2 separate regions of the Homo sapiens genome follow, and region 2 is linked to region 1. Evidence: fine-mapped expression QTL. A gene starts in region 1. The other region holds a variant in brackets. All regions are shown on one strand. Distances are from middle to middle. Region 1 holds the start of RAB9A (RAB9A, member RAS oncogene family). Region 2 overlaps TRAPPC2 (trafficking protein particle complex subunit 2).

Region 1 (5,530 bases):
CTTGAACTCCAGGGCTCAAGTCGTCCTTCTGCCTCAGCCTCCAGAGTAGCTGGGACATGCACCACCACACTGAGCTAGGCTAATTTTTTTTTTAATTTATTTTTTGTAGAGACGGGGGTCTCACTATGTTGCCCAGGCTGGTCTCAAACTTCTGGGCTCAAGTGATCCTCCTGTGTGGGTCTCCCAAAGCGCTGAGATTACAGGCATGAGCCACCACACTCAGCCTGTTTTGCTTTTTTTTCCTGTTTTGCTTTTTTTTAATGAACACCTGGCCCCTGTCCTTGAGTAGCCCAGGCAATAAATTCTGTTCTAGGATGATGTCAGAACCTAATCTTATGACTGTGATTGGACTGTAAGCTTCAGGAAGGTTGGGACTCCCCACCGCCCTTCTCATCAGCACCTTTGTATCAGTGCCCCACAGGCTGCTCAGACAACTGAAATAATGCAGAAACTAAACTTTCTAAGTCCACTTTAATGGCTCTGAATAGCTCTAAAGTTCTTTTTGTCATTTTTGCCTTACAACAAAAAACAGATTCTGCTACCAGAAATTATTTGGTCTTTTTTTTTTTTTTTTTTTTTTTTTTTTGAGATGGAGTCTCATTCTGTTGCCCAGGCTGGAGCGCAATGGCGTGATCTCGGCTCACTGCAACCTCTGCCTCCCAGGTTCAAGCGATTCTCCTGCCTCAGCCTCCTGAGTAGCTGGGATTACGGGCATCCGCCACCACGCCTGGCTAATTTTTGTATTTTTAGTAGAAACGGAGTTTCACCATGTTGGCCAGGCTGGTTTCAAACTCCTGACCTCGTGATCCGCCCACCTCGGCCTCCCAAAGTGCTGGGATTACAGGCGTGAGCCACCGTGCCCAGCCACTCACTCTTTAATCTTTCAAGTGAATATGCTTCTCAGTAGAGAGAATTTTCCCCTGCTCACTGTTAAAATGATGAGGTATCCCAAATAGGAAAACGACATTGCATTTGAAAAACTACAAAAGCAGTTGAAATGTAAGCTCTGGGGTTACTTGGACTGCTGAAAAGGAGGGTTTCTCAACCGTGGCACTAGTGACATTTTGGGCTAGACAACTCTGTTGTGGGGGGCTGTCCTGTAGGTTATAGAATGTTTAGCAGCAAAATTTAAAAATTAAATAACAAAAATAAAAATAAAAAAGAATGTTTAGCAGCATCCCTGGCCTCTACCCACTAGATGTCAGCAGCACCTCCCTTGCCCCCAGGTGTGAACCAAAGATGCCTCCAGGCATTGCCAAATGTCTCCTACGAGGACAAAATTGTCCTCTCTTCCAGTTGAAAACTACTACTCTAAAATTACCCAGACCTGCTTTGAATCCCCGCTCCACCCCATCACAACCTGGGTCATCTTGGAAAACAGACTGAACCTTCCTATGCCCCCCCAAATTCCTCAACTGTAACATGGAGCTCTTACTGAAGAAATGCTATGGAAATTAAATAAAATGATGTACGTACAGGATTTACACGTACGGAATATTCGCCGCAGAGTGAGTGCTCAATAAATGGTCAGAAATGAGGGGAGGCTAAAAAAAAATAATTTCGAGAACTCAAGGATCTTCTCTTTAGGCCTCCAGAGTACTGTAGTCCAGACAGAAGAAATGGTTGAGATAGAAACAAAAAGAGATGAGAGAGGTTGGAAAAGAAGTGATAGCACTAAGGTATTATTTCCCTTATCTCTAAAACCCGGCTTGGAGTCAAAGCCAATGATGTTCTACTTAGTGTTTGCCTATCTACTCTAACATTCCAAATAATAAACGAAAAAATATGCCCAGATCCCAAAAGTCTCCAGAAGAGAAACTTTGTAGTATAAACGAGGAATTTACCACAGCAGACACAAAAATACTAAAAGCACCAGACTGCCACAGCATTGTCTTAGATTTAGGAATCCAAATAACTACTAAAGTTCTAGAGAAGCAATCATGATAACTTCATAATCTTCTAAAGGAAAAACTAAAGGCTGGCTTCTTAAAAGTTCCTAACTGAATCGTTCCAGGTTTCTTTATCTCTAGTTTTGCTACACTGGACAGCTTCTGAGAGTACAGGCAATGTAGGGATTTTCCATTACAATGGTGCCAGAGACCGAAGGACAAACACATTTTTAAAGAAGCAATCAAATTCTGCCCATTGATTTTTATCAGGACGCTAAAATCCTATGAAAAGATTGTGGTCACGTGCCGATTTGGAAACTAGCAGAAAAGTTATTCCTCAAAAGAACTGTAGTCACGAGATGTGTCATCCCTTACCAAAAAAAAAAAAAAGCAATACGTCCACCAACTATTTATTAAGTTCAGCACTTAAATTTCTCATTTTGCCTTTTTACTTACCAAGTTGGAAGAAAAAAGGGAACGCGATTGTGAAACGTTAGCCAGCGTCTGAATCAGATAATGCCCCCAAAACGCCTGCAGCCTCTAAGATTGGCTTTACTTTCCGAATTCCTCACCCGAGTGGTCGTAAGACATCGAGCAAACACGTTCTGCTAGGTGGAACTTCAGAGGTCGCCAAAATCAAGTCATGGGAGCGCCTTTGTTTTCCCTACATTAATCATTCGGGTGTAGGATTTGGTTTGGGGTCTGTGGATGTGTGTCCCGGAGTGGTTGGGGGAAAGGCTGGCGTGTACGTGTGTTCCCAGGTGACCGGGTGTATTTCTCCGTGTGTATGTGCACGGGTGTCCGGGCTTTTGTATCTCCCTTTCTCCAGTGTTTGTGTGTGTTTCTGTGAGTCCCTCTCCCCAAGGGTGTGGGGACCGTCTTTCCTCCTGCGTCAGAGAGGAGGCAGGGAGACAACCAGCCGTCCTCTCTCCCGGGGCGGCCTTGTGACCCGCGCTAGCCCCGCGCGCACCGCACCCCGCCCCAGCTGCCCGAGGCCCGAGCCGCCCCCTCAGACCCCGACACCCGCGCACTCCGCCCGGTCCCGAAGGAGTCCCGAGTCCCGCTCACCTCGCGGCCACACGAAAGACGACCCGGGAGCTCTGGGCCGGCCCGTCTGGGCGCAATGAGGACAGAGAGAGGGTCGGGGACCTGCACAGCAGGAGGCAGCCGCGGTAGCGCAGCCAGGCTCCCGCTCCAGCTGCTCCCGTCCAGCGCGGAGGGAACAACATGGCGACGGGCCGGGGCGGGGCCAGGGAAAAAGCGGGGCGGGGCCTGGAAGGCGGGGTCCCGCGGCCGAGACCCTGGGGGACGGGCGCGGGGAAGGTGGAGCCGAGGCAGGCGGGGCCTGGATCGTGCTTTTCCTTCGGGTCGATTGCTCCTGAAGTGTCCTCCCGTCTGCGTTCGGGCGACAGCGAGTACGAAATAACTGTCATTTTGAAAAGTTTACGTAAAGTGGAAATAAACAGACCTCATGAGCACAGTCACAGGATGTCGTGATTACAATGATAAAAACGACTAGTCAAACGGACAAAGAACAAACAGGTGGATGAAAAATGAAAACAGTTGTGATACTGTGGAAAAACAAGAACTTTTTAAATGAAGCTATTAAAACTTTCCTTTAATCTTGTTAAAATACTGCCTCTGTCATCTCTGAATAGAAAGCGATGGTGCAAAAGGTGGTATTGGAGAAGCTCTCCTTAAGTCCTTGCTTTATGTATGAAGTTGAGTGCATGGATCCTATGATACAGAACCCTACAGGCGGGAGGGACTCATAGGGACATCTCAATACGTTTTGTACGGTGATTTAGTTTGTTTATCAGAAAACCAAATACTGCGTGTTCTCACTCATAAGTAGAAGCTAAATGATGAGAACTCATGGTCACATAGAGAGGAACAAGAGACACCAGGGCCCACTTGAGGGTTGAGGGTGTGAGGAGGAAAAGGAGCAGAAAAAAACTAGGTATCAAGTACTATGCTTATTACCTGGGTAACTAAATAATCCGTACACCAAGCCCTTGCAACAGGCAGTTTACCTACATGACAAACCTACACATGTACCCCTAAACCTAAAATAAAAGCTTTTTAAAAAAGATTTAGTCTGTTTATTTTCCAAGACAAAGATCTCACTTTTATGATGCTGGGGCTCACAACAAGTTAAATAATCTCCAGCTTTTTGGGGAGTCATTTTCAGGTAATGACTTTTCATTCAGCACTAGAAAGGTCATGTTTGAGAAAGTTCCTCACAAATTAAAAAGGCAATTTTAGAATGCTTCTGAAAACGACACATAAGCTTAAATAATTGTTTTCTCATAAACAGAAATCTATTTCTTATCTGCAGGTCATTTCCCCAAGGAAATATGTATAAACGTTTATAAAATACAAATCTGTTAAATTGGGGGGAAGAAGAAATATACACTATCTTGTTTTAAAACACATATTAAAAGTACACAGTAAAACATTATATATGAACACTAGAGTTAATTTTCCAATAGAAAAAAAAGTCATGTACATTGGGTCAAATTGCAACAAGCAATCCACAGGGTAATTAAAGAAATGCCACCTGAAAATCGTATATCCTAACCATAGTCAAGGAGTGATCAAATAGGAGTTTATCTGTGCAACTGCTAATGCCAACTAGCTATTAACAAGTGATCTCATAAAATTATTGTATTTTGAGTTAAAATAAACCTTGACAAACCCAACAGCTTTCATAAAAATGTTCTAAGAAGGTTCCATAAGTGACTCTCAGGCTGTTCCAAAATGTAAGAAGGCATTCAAACATATTTGAGTGTAGCTTATAGTACCTTAAGAAAGAATAAGCTTAGAAAGTTACTTTCTCTAAAATTACTATCAGTTGGATACTAGCCAACTGACATTTAAGAAAGTTAGTATATTCTGGTCTCTTCCACCATTCACTTCTTAACCACATTTCTATGTCAGTGCAAGAGTAAAGTGGGTTAAAAGATTTTTCTCTGAAGGGCAAGTTTGGGGGATTTTTGTTATTGGATGTGTGTGGTTGGTAAGCTGATGCAAGTTGGATAGACAGTTGCTATCTCTCTTGCTCCATAAACTTGTTCCTTGATGAAAACATTAAAGAACTAACCTAGTTTGACTCCCTTCATCTAACGAAGATTTTCATCTTTATATTCTGTAAACACCAATGCATCACTCACGGGAGAGAAAGAGGCCAAAGTTGCTATGCATAAATGATTCTTTTACTTAAATAACACCTACTTATTACTATAAGTACTAGGAGTTAATACCCCATCTCAAGCTGGAGACTGAAAGAAATCACTTCTGGCATCTCTGATGAAAAGCTACAAGTGGCTGGGCGTGGTGGCTCACGCCTGTAATCCCAGCACTTTGGGAGGCCGAGGCCGGTGGATAATGAGGTCAGGAGTTTGAGACTAGCCTGGCCAACATGGTGAAACCCCGTCTCTACTAAAAATACAAAAAAATTAGCTGGGTGTGGTGGCGTGCGCCTGTAATCCCAGCAACTCAGGAGACTGAGGCAGGAGAATCACTTGAACCCGGGAGGTGGAGGTTGCAGTGAGTCAAGATTGCGTGCCACTGCACTCCAGCCTGGGCAACAGAGTAAGACTCTGTCTCAAGAAAAAAAAAAAGCTACAAGTAAGTGGGCC
Region 2 (5,000 bases), 30 kb before region 1:
ATTTTAAATCTTACGTCATCATGCCAGGAGTTCTGATCTGCCTTTTCTTCCATAGTCATGGCCTTCCAATTCTAGAGTTAAAAGTGCCAGCTGTGCCTTGATTTCCTTTATAAAATGTGTCATTCATTAGCAAGTACATATCAGATTTCTTCTGATTTCATTGTGTGTTCTGTGTGAATCAGCAGAAGGCCCAATGAGGCTTGCTAAGTCTTGGCTTCTAACACACCTCAGATGTATGTTCTAGGAGACTGACTGTAACTCCCGGTTTACTTGATTTCCACTCCGTGTTGAGAAGTTACTAGTCACCACATCCCAGTGTGCATACGGTCTCCCATGTTATTCCACTAACATTAATTGAGCATGTACTGTGGGTCAGACACTGTACTGGGTACTTTACATGCATTAGATTGTGTGATCCTCATAAGTGCACCATAAGGTGCTACAGTGTTAGCACTATTTAACAGATGAGAAAACGGACATTAGGAAGTTAAGGACTGCCTGTGGTCACACTGCCAGTAAGTAGCAGAGCTAGACCTGAACCTAACTTTGACTCCAAAGTCCTTGTGTTAAAAATACACACCGTGGGGTTACCTTGGGGTAAATCCATCCATGCCCCCACCCATCCATCATTCATCTAGATTTCAATTATCTGTGCTAAAAGCCATGGAATCACTTATATTTTTCCCCCCAGTTTCTCGTAGTTTCATCTCTTCTGCCAATCTGTTTTTTTTTTTTTTTTGAGACAGGGTCTCATTTTGTCACTTAGACTGGAGTGCAGTGGTGCGATCTTGGTTCACTGCAGCCCTGACCTCCCTGGGCTCAGGTGATCCTCCTGCGTCAGCCTCCTGAGTAGCTGGGACTACAGGCACATACCACCATGCCTGGCTACTTTTTGTATTTCATGTAGAGATGGAGTTTCACCATGTTGCCCAGGCTGGTCTCGAAGTCCTGGGCTGAAGCAATCTGCCCATCTCAGCCCTCCAAAGTGCTGGGATTACAGGCGTGAGCCACTGCACCGGGCCCAACATGTTAAACTTAGTTCCAAGATCTTTCAGTGCCTCAGAATGTCTTCCTTTATGGATTATTTCTTCCATCTTTTCTAGAATACAAAACTCTTCCTTTCTTATAAATTGGTATATAAAGAGGCATATCATAGGCTCTTAGATTTGCAAAGACTTACATTTATAGCACACATACTTCAAGTAGAAAGAAGACAAATACAGCACACGCAGTCTGCGAATCAGTGATACAGTGTCTGTCCTTTCTAGGTAAGTGACATGAGGTAGAGTTGGTTTTAGCTTCCCCCGACGGATGCCTCCTGGAAATTTCTAAGGCAAGGTAATTACTTCCTTGGTCTTCCCACTACTCTGTATTGTCCTTGACTTACCACCACCTTCTGTTAATCCTTCTAGGTGTCCGTGCTGCTACTAACTGGTCCAGTCCAAATGAAGCCCAGCTTACTCTACCAGACACTTAGGGCCCCTTGAGCTGAATGAGCCATATTTTCAGATCATGAGAATGTTGTCTTTGTGATTTCATGTTAGAGGTCTTCCAGTTTACTTAAGAAAATACATTAGATTCACAGATTCATATCATAGATACATAATTTGTTTATTCCAGAAGCTACGTATCTTCGCTAGTATACTGGAAACTGCCAAGCTTAGTAGCATCTTCCTCTACAATGTCAGGTTTAAATTTAAAAAAGAATTCTACACTTCCCATTAGTCATTTTTTAATTTGAAGATTGACTACTAAAAATATGTACTATTTTTCACTTAATTAGGAGCCATATATTGAAGACCATGTCTGGGAGCTTCTACTTTGTAATTGTTGGCCACCATGATAATCCAGTTTTTGAAATGGAGTTTTTGCCAGCTGGGAAGGCAGAATCCAAAGTACGTAAGAATTTTTATGCTATTGTAATGATATGGTATAATATGATTTTAGAACTGGAAGATCTGGACAGATAAGGTAACTGAAATCCACCACAATTAAATGAGGCTTGCTCAGGAGCCCACAGACTGATAGAAGCCAGCCAGGGTATGTCCTTGGAGATGTTTATTCATCCTTTAGTTCAGCACAGACTAGCATGACGCTCTGGCATTCCCATCATACTCAGTTCACTATGTCACCCACCATGAATTGCTGTTGCTTAAGCACATAAAGACATAGTTCACCTGTAGTGGATTGCCGCCTTGAAATACCATGAAAGTCCAGGCTGTTTTCATGAATCATGTTTTTCATCAGGACCTACTGGGTTAGAAAAGACCCTTACTTCCCTGTCTTCCTGCTGCCACTGGGTCTGCAGCACCTCACTTCAGGGGCCTTCTGCAGCACTTCCTGGCTGGGTTGAGCCTGTATGCTCCCCTCCCCAGTGACACCTTGGCCATACACAGGAAGCTCAAAAGCAGCACCAGAGGTGATACCACCC[A/G]ACTTGCTTGTCAAGAATGGTTCCAAAAACCAAGCTTAGCTCGAGGACATATTGCCATTCAGACCCATAGAGTATTTTTTTTTTTTGAGACAAGGAAATGGACCATATATTTTAAGAAAGATTACCATCCCAAATGCTTAAAATAAAACCATTTGGATCTTATTTATTTATTCTTTTTGAGACAGAGTCTTGCTCTGTCGCCCAGACTGGAGTGCAGTGACACGATCTCAGCTCACTGCAACTTCTGCCTCCTGGGTTCAAGCAATTCTCCTGTATTAGCCTCCCAGGTAGCTGGGATTATAGGTGCGCACCACTGTGCCAGGCTAATTTTTGTATTTTTAGTAGAGACAGGGTTTCGCCATGTTGCCCAGGCTGGTCTCGAACTCCTGACCTCAGGTGGTCTGCCTGCCCTCGGCCTCCCAAAGTGCTGGGATTGCAGACATGAGCCACTACACCTGGCCCAGACCTGTAGAGTTTTGACACGAGAAGAGCCCAGTTCTTTCCAATTTCTGTTTCTAATAAATTGCTGACAAGTTTGCTATGTTTCTCCCAACCTCCAAAAATTGGCTTTAATGTCCTTTAAGGAATTGATGTTTTAAGTTAATTGTAATGCATAATATATGGTATTTTTCAACTATTCAGGCCTTGCCACCAAAATAAGATAGGCATTTGTTTACGGGATTCTCTATGAGGTGGAGTTGTGACATTATTTTCTCATATTATGAGAACACTACTCATTAAAACTTGTTTTTGAGGTATCTCTGTACCAGTACTGCTTTGTGGGATGCAGCTACTTGTATGTAATTTCTGTGCACTCCACTGCCCTTGTGTTGGACAAAGCACACATAAAAATACTTTGTTGCATAACTTGATTTTAGTTCTTTCTCCTGCTACCACTCACTTTCTTAAAGCGTTTTCAGTTTGCTCCTAATTCTTCAGGATTGATCATCATTGTAAAAGAAAACACTGCTGTGAGCCAGACACAAAAACATCCATTTCTCTAAGGATTCACTTAGCTTTGTCATGGCAACATGAGTGAAGTAAAACATGCTTTAACTATGCATGGGATTCCACGGCAACGGGCCGCCCTCCTCCAGCCCAGGCATGAGAACAGCCTCCTTGGCAAGGAAGCCGTCTCAGTTTCCTATGGCTGTTGTAACAAAGTACGAAAAACTGAGTGGCTTGGGACAGCAGAAATTTATTGTCTCAGTTCTGAGGGCCACCATCTGAAATCAAGGTGTCAGTGGGGCCATGCTCCCTATGAAGGCACAAAGACAAGGGTCTGTCCAGGCCTCTCTCCCAGCTTCTGGGAGTTCCTTGGCTTGTGGCAGCATAACTCCAGTCTTCATGTGGCATTTTTCTCCCTGTGTGCATCTCTAAATGTTCCCTTTTTCTAAATACACCAGTCCATTGGATTAGGGGCCCACCCTACTCCAGTGTGACCTCATCTTAGCTAACCACATCTGCAACAACCCTCTTTCCATATAAGGCCACATTCTGAGGTACTGTTGCTTAGGACTTCAACAAAGGAATTTTAGAGAGGAAACACTTCAACCCATAACAGGTATTCTTTGAAAAATGGCTTGGGTTTTTTTGAGACGGAGTTTTGCTCTTGTCCCCCAGGCTGGAGTGCAATGGCGTGATCTCGGCTCACTGCAGCCTCCGCCTCCCAGGTTCAAGCAATTCTCCTGCCTCAGCCTCCCGAGTAGCTGGGATTACAGGCATGCACCACCACAGCCGGCCAATTTTTGTATTAGTAGAGATGGGATTTCACCATATTGGACAGGCTGGTCTTGAACTCCTGACCTCAGGTGATCCACCTGCCTCAGCCTCCCAAAGTGCTAGGATTACAAGCATAAGCCACCGCGCCTGGCCAAAAAATGTATTTTCAAAGAACTACATTGGAGTAAGACTGCATTCCAAGTTCTGAATTCCGTCTTCACATTATGGTCAGACAGTCCCACCTTCTGTTCACTTAAGCCATTTCAGCCCAGGAAAAGGACACTCCCAGCTCTGACAGGACTGTGTCCTGCTATTGACACAGGCGACTGCTCACAGCTGGGGCTGAGCATCACCTCCCACTACTCCTAGGTCCCGCTGTCATGTAAGCTCCATGCACTGGAAAGAGGCCTCTGGCAGGCCGTTATAAGCGCCATTTCAACTGTCTCTACTGCTTACCTGGTGCCACTGTGCAGGAAGCCCCGCCCTCTCAGTTTCCTCCCAGACCTTGAGGCCTAGTGTGAATGGCACCTCTTCTCCACAGGATCTTGTTTTTTTTTTTTTTTTTTTTTTTTTTTTTTAACATAGTATCCTTTTTTTACATGTTTAGATGGTTACAGAATTCGGTAACTTCCTTCTTGAAACATGAAAAAAAATTTATATGAAAAAGATTTTCAATAAATGATTTTGTATAAATCCTCTATATACACATTTCATTTATTAATTGGCTGTTTCTGTTGAGATGTAGATATCAAATTTAAAAATAGAATATAATATGAAAACAGATCTTTTATAAGTCTCATGACAATAACAAAGTATAAAAGCAAACTGTTTTTTCCCCACAAGAAAA

What was found. PIP is the estimated chance that this variant, and not a neighbour inherited with it, causes the effect.
Region 2: its variant is the best candidate, but not a certain one, in a credible set for the expression of RAB9A in blood mononuclear cells (TOPMed, PIP 0.63).

What each region holds. Positions count from the first base shown.
Region 1 is chrX:13,686,716-13,692,245 of GRCh38, reverse strand. RAB9A (RAB9A, member RAS oncogene family) reads right to left here and starts at 3,118. Exons shown (of 3, transcript NM_004251.5): 1 at 2,958-3,118. RefSeq lists silencers at 1-184, 2,809-2,968, 2,979-3,218 and an enhancer at 3,369-3,418.
Region 2 is chrX:13,716,766-13,721,765 of GRCh38, reverse strand. TRAPPC2 (trafficking protein particle complex subunit 2) reads left to right here. Exons shown (of 6, transcript NM_001011658.4): 3 at 1,784-1,895. The coding sequence starts at 1,803. It also overlaps a transcript of OFD1 not described here. Among named protein-coding and RNA genes, the nearest start is that of TRAPPC2, 15 kb to the left of the region's middle. The variant A/G (reference allele first, on the strand shown) is at 2,432.